Linked DNA regions of Homo sapiens: region 2 is linked to region 1. The links come from fine-mapping of genetic effects on gene expression. Tissue or cell type: sun-exposed skin. Region 1 holds a variant in brackets; the other region holds the start of a gene. All regions are shown on one strand. Distances are from middle to middle.

Region 1 (2,762 bases):
AGCTCTAGATTTGCTCAACATGGCAGCTGGCTTCCCCAAAGTGAGTGATTCGAGAAAGAAAAAGTTGGTTACATAGACCAACCAGGAGATGGTGGATGTTGTCCCTAACTTCCTGGAGGCTGGCTAATAAAGTGCATAATTAATATTTATTGATTAAAGTAATGTGTGTCTGATACTGTACTAAGCATTTTACATATGTCATTTCATTTAATCCAGATAACAATCCCATGAATCATCCTCATTTGAGATATGATAAAACTGAGGCTTATACAAGTTAAGTAAACTGTCAATTTCTACGAAGCTAGTGGCATAACAAGAGTTCAAACACAGATCTCTTTAGCTCAAAGGCTGTGAAAACATGGTTCACAGTACAAATGAATAAAAGAATTACATTATTCTAAGAATAAAGTGATTTAGGTGGTCTTTTTAAACTTTGTTTAAATTGAGTCAAACTCATTTGTATGTGGCGGAAGAAACTAGATGTTTTATCAGGCGGGAAACCCTAAAATTCTTCAGGTGAGTAAAAAGTTAATTGCTTCCCTATTCTGTAGTTGACAAGGTGTTGTTTCATTTTTTCTCTCTTACTACGCTGTTTCAAATTCTTGGCAGATTATTGGAAACAAGGAAAGTCAAGAATTCTCCCAGTGACTACCCATAGAATTAAATCAACAAAAACTGTTGATCATTGACTGTGCATATGGCACTGTGGCAGCTTCCCAGATCTACAAAGCAAGTGAGACAGTATCTGTTGTTTAAGAGGTCATAATCTCTTTCGGATTAAGGTGATACAAAAATAATAACACAGAGAAGCTGAAGCATCATGGAGAGGCACACAAGGAATGCTTATTGAGGTCTGAATTTTTAAAAGACTGGACACGTCTTTAAAATACATTTGGTGTTCGTTAAAATAATCTAGTGTGATAACCTCTGGAAATCACATTATTTTAAATGGAGGGAACTAGCCTTCTTTAATTTTTTTTTTAAAAAGCAGTTGGAAAACTTGAAGACAGGGACTTACTTACCTTTCCACATGTCTCTGTCAGGAACCAGTTTTCTAGGAAGGGTGGCAGAAATGAGCTTCATATGTTTCTGGAATGCAAGAATGTAGAAAGGGGGGTGGAGGTTCAAAGTCCAGGTAGCCCTCTGTGAGAA[C/T]GCAGGAATCAAATCAGGACAAACAAAAGAAGGGTGAAGTGGGTAGGGCAACGGAGTTTCGGGATTGACTGGAATGAGAGTTAAGGTGATAATGCTGGGGTGGAAATGAAAGTCAGACCCCTCCTTACGGACTGGGAAGAAAGGAGCCCTCCTAGTAAAGTTGAAAAGACCAAGTGTCCTCTTCTCCATTTCACCGGGGAAACGCTCCTGTGCCTAGTCGTAAGGTACAGGAGAGTCTATGGAGCCCATGGAGAGTCTAATGCAAAAACTAGTTTCCGACCAAACTTTGCCTTGGCCACTGAGCATGCTCAGCTTTGTCTTCTATAGAAAAGTGAACTCCGTGGCTCCAGATTTTAGCTATAGCAGCTGGAGGGCGGGAGTGAGTGTGGGAGAGCCAGCGTGGCAGCGGCCGCAGGTGGAAACCTGGAGTTTGAGTATGCTTGAAAGGGAAAGTGTGGAACGAAGGGGCGGCCGGGTGGGGAATCAGAGAAGCCCCCAAGGAAATGATTCATCATTGTGATTGACCTTGACTTTAGCAACCCTTCATTAAAGGAGAAAATTTGGTTATTCGGAGATGGGGACTGTGTTGCAAACAGTTACAGGCAAAGAGGGGCAGTTCAGGATTCCGGCCGTGGTCCGCAGGAATGAGTCGGGGCGAGGGAATGGTTGTTATAACCCAATAGTGAGCCTCCCCGGTCATCCGGGCTGGACGGGACTGGGGTTGTAGCAGAAAAGCAGGAGCTGTATGGAGGATGCTCACCTGGCAGCCTCGATCTGCCCCTCTTCCCTCGCTCCTCCCTCCGCACCAGCCACAGCTAGTTGTCAGGGGCCAACATCTGGGCCGGGCTGGAACTGGCTCAGAAACTCGCGTTTGCCTGCTTATTTCTGCAGCTGGGCTCCTTGCCAGGTGCAACCACATCTATGAGAATCTCGCAGACTCTCAGACTCCTATGCCTTTGCTGGTACAGGGAGGAGGATTTACTATCACTCACTGCATAAACCATGATCACCAGAGATGTGCTCCCAAGTTACAAAGCCTGCAGGCGGTGCCCGAGGACCAGAGGGCCGGGCGCGGCCAGCTCACACTTCTGGGGCAGCCGTGAGCAGCGGGCACACGGGCAGCCACGAAAGCAGCAGCGAGGGTGGTGCAAACACCTCAAAACTACACCGAATCCAGTAGCGCCTGGCGCCCCCGGCGCGCAAGGTACGCTTTGGGGCGGTCCTGTGTGACCCCGGAAGAGAAAGTTGTTTTGGGGAAGGGGAGCAAGGAGAGGAGTGCGAGTTAAATAAAACTAAATATCAAAGTTGTTCTGCTCTGCTCAGGCCGCCTCTACTCCGCCTCATCTTTGTCCCAAGTCCTTTCACAGTCTGCCTTCCTCAAACGGCCCGATGCGCCCCCGTCTTTGCCGGAGTAAGCAGACCGCCAGCAGCCGGCCCGCAGGTCAGTCGACCCTCTCTGGATGCAGGTCGCCGGGAAAACCCGGAGCGGAGCATCCCTCGGGCCGGGAAACGCCCTCGGCGCGCACCCACTGGCGCGCATGCTCAGTCCGCGCGGCGGCTGCGAGTAGGAAGCTCCGCGCGGCGGCGGGGGCGGCGACGGCGACTGGCGG
Region 2 (2,631 bases), 130 kb before region 1:
TACCTGAAATTCAAATGTAGCTGGATGACCTGACTTGTATCTGGCATTCCTGATCAGGGCTGGGTATCAGGTGAGTCCATGAGTCCTGCGGAATAGTCTGAAACATACTGTGTGCATATGTTTATGTGTACTTTCCACACACTGGGCTCAGCGTTTTCATGAGATCCATAACCCGAAATAGATCCAAAATGACTGGACTGAGAATAATGCTGCCAAGCAATGGTACATAATTGGACCCTTGTCTGTAAGTGGGCAAGTCCATGTGAAAGTATTGCACTTAAATTCTTCCTGGCCCCAGCTGATCCCAGATGAAGACCCCCAGAACTGGTTATAGAAAAGAGTTGTTACTTCATATTTGAGAACATTTTCCTTCCCACTGCCCTGCACCCATGCTTCCTGGGAGTCCACAACAGGGTAAACTGGAAAGCCATGTGTGCTAAAGTGTCACTGTCACTCTCATGCCAGTATGAACTGGGATCCCAGAATGTCTTTTTGCCAAAGGGGCGAATCAGCTGCGCCTGCTCCCTGTCCTGGCCACATTCCTATCGCTGCATCTGTCGGGGCTCATCAGCCCTACCTCCAGGAATAGAAACCCTCCTGGCTTCTGTGGCTTGCCATTTTAAGTCCAACCTCGGGGTGGGGTGTAGGGGGGTGGTTTCCACTTCACCATTACACTTCCAACATGATTTTTAATATAAAATATATGTCAGCATAATGATATGTGCACATTTAAGACAAAAACCTATTTTTTAGCCAAATAACAAATTTTTTTTTTTTTTTAGGAAGGATATTTCCATTTCATCAATAGGTTATATTTCTGGGAATTCAGAGTTGTCTGAGTTTTGTGCTACAGATTTAGTTAAAACTGGTAACATTTCATCCAAACTGATCAGTAACAAATGTTAAAATGATTCTTGATAAAAATAAAGGTAGAATTCTAAACTTTGTGAACAAAGCCTAAGAATTTTCTCTCCTTCTCCTTCTCTATAAAGTAGTGAAAGAAAAATATATCTTAAGCTTTAGAGATTTAGAATTTTTGTTAGAAATTACAGGTGGTTTTACATTTGTAGGGCATCATTGTCATGCATTTTGTTACCGTGAAGTTCTCCTAACACGTTACATTTCTCAGATTTCAAAAAAATGTTTTCTGTCTCCCAACTTCAGATTAGGGACATGAACCACCTGACCCAGCTGTAGACTCCCTTCAGTAAAATAGCTCTACAACCACAAACACTCAGCCCACCCTCTCCCACCCACACATCCACACACACCCCAGGATCTAGAAGGCAGGAATTGGCGACTCTGGTCCCAGCTCCTTACCCTCCTTGGGTGAAGTGGCAGGTCAACTTGAGATGATGAAGTTTTAGCAGGAGACTCCTCTTGGGAAGGGATCTGTGGAGATAGAGAGAGGGAGAAGGAAAATCCGGTGGGGAGCCACCAGCAGCCACCTGACAAGACCCGGCTGCAGCAATTTTTAGAGTGACCCTTTGCCGTCCCACTGGATAAGGCAGGCCGAGCCTGCGCTTTGGCCCGGGAGCAGAGCAGCGAGCGCCCTCCTCTCCGTCTTTGGCCTTCAACTCTCCAGCCAGCCGGGGGCAGGGGGCGGGGCTCCGGTTGGTGGAGAGGGGTTGGGTTTCTTGAACTGACCAGCTGCTCAAAATGAAAAAGAAAAGAAAAGAAAAGAAAAGAAAGAAAGAAGGAAAGAAAGAAAGAAAGAAAGAAAGAAAGAAAGAAAGAAAGAAGGAAGGAAGGAAGGAAGGAAGGAAGGAAGGAAGGAAGGAAGGAAAGAAAGAAAGAGAAAGAAAGAAAGAAAGAAAGAAAGTCAAGAGCTCAATCAACCTGTGTGAGAGGAAAGAAAATTAATTCGATGGATGTTTAATTGTTGGAAGCAGGGATTCTAGTAGAGTAAGGAGAAGGGAAGGCTGTGGATTAAAAATTAGTTTTTGGAAAGGTAATTAGCCTGGTCACCTACGGTCTTTTGAGAAGATAGTGGTTATAAATAGCCTATTCTTTATAAGAGGAGCACGTATCTACCAGATATGGTACTTTCTACAGCACCTCACATGTGGTTCTAACATTATTAGGCTCATTTTAGAGTTTAATAAAGTGAGGTTTATGGCCAGCGATTTTCCAGTGATCACAGAGAGGTCTGAGATTAACACACACTCTAGCACACATGCAGGTTGGGAAATATCTACTTTGGCAACACTTCATGAGAAAAAAAATTCAATGATTATAATTGACTACAAATTTTAATGGGCACCAAGAGTGTGAAATGGTTGCTTAAAAAGTTAACATGATATTAAGCTACAATAATAGAAAAATAGATCATGGAAAATAAATGTTCTAATTATTCTTCATTAGTCAGATGATGTGTTAAGCATCACTTTGCTATCTTGGCACTCTGAGAACTTACTCTTCATCCTACAGAGATGGCTGGAACAAAAAAACTTCAGAGGCGGTGCATGTTGGAAACATCTGAAGAGAAGTATGACAAAGAGAGGACTTTTAAGATAAGTGAGACACCTGAGAGCAAGTGTTGTGGGGGCTGTTGTACAGCAAGAGGATTCAGTCAAAATTTCTGTAGCCTAAAATGTCAAAAATTTTAATGTGCAGTAATTCCGGGGAAAT

The links. PIP is the estimated chance that this variant, and not a neighbour inherited with it, causes the effect.
Region 2: KLHL31 starts here. The variant in region 1 is fine-mapped to the expression of KLHL31 in sun-exposed skin (GTEx, PIP above 0.99).

What each region holds. Positions count from the first base shown.
Region 1 is chr6:53,792,261-53,795,022 of GRCh38, forward strand. LOC124901333 (a long non-coding RNA gene) reads right to left here and starts at 1,415. Exons shown (of 5, transcript XR_007059619.1): 1 at 1,281-1,415; 2 at 1,023-1,089. It overlaps LRRC1 (leucine rich repeat containing 1), which reads left to right and starts at 2,745. Exons shown (of 14, transcript NM_018214.5): 1 at 2,745-2,762. RefSeq lists silencers at 1,436-1,565, 2,611-2,762. The variant C/T (reference allele first, on the strand shown) is at 1,153.
Region 2 is chr6:53,664,281-53,666,911 of GRCh38, forward strand. KLHL31 (kelch like family member 31) reads right to left here and starts at 1,476. Exons shown (of 3, transcript NM_001003760.5): 1 at 1,321-1,476.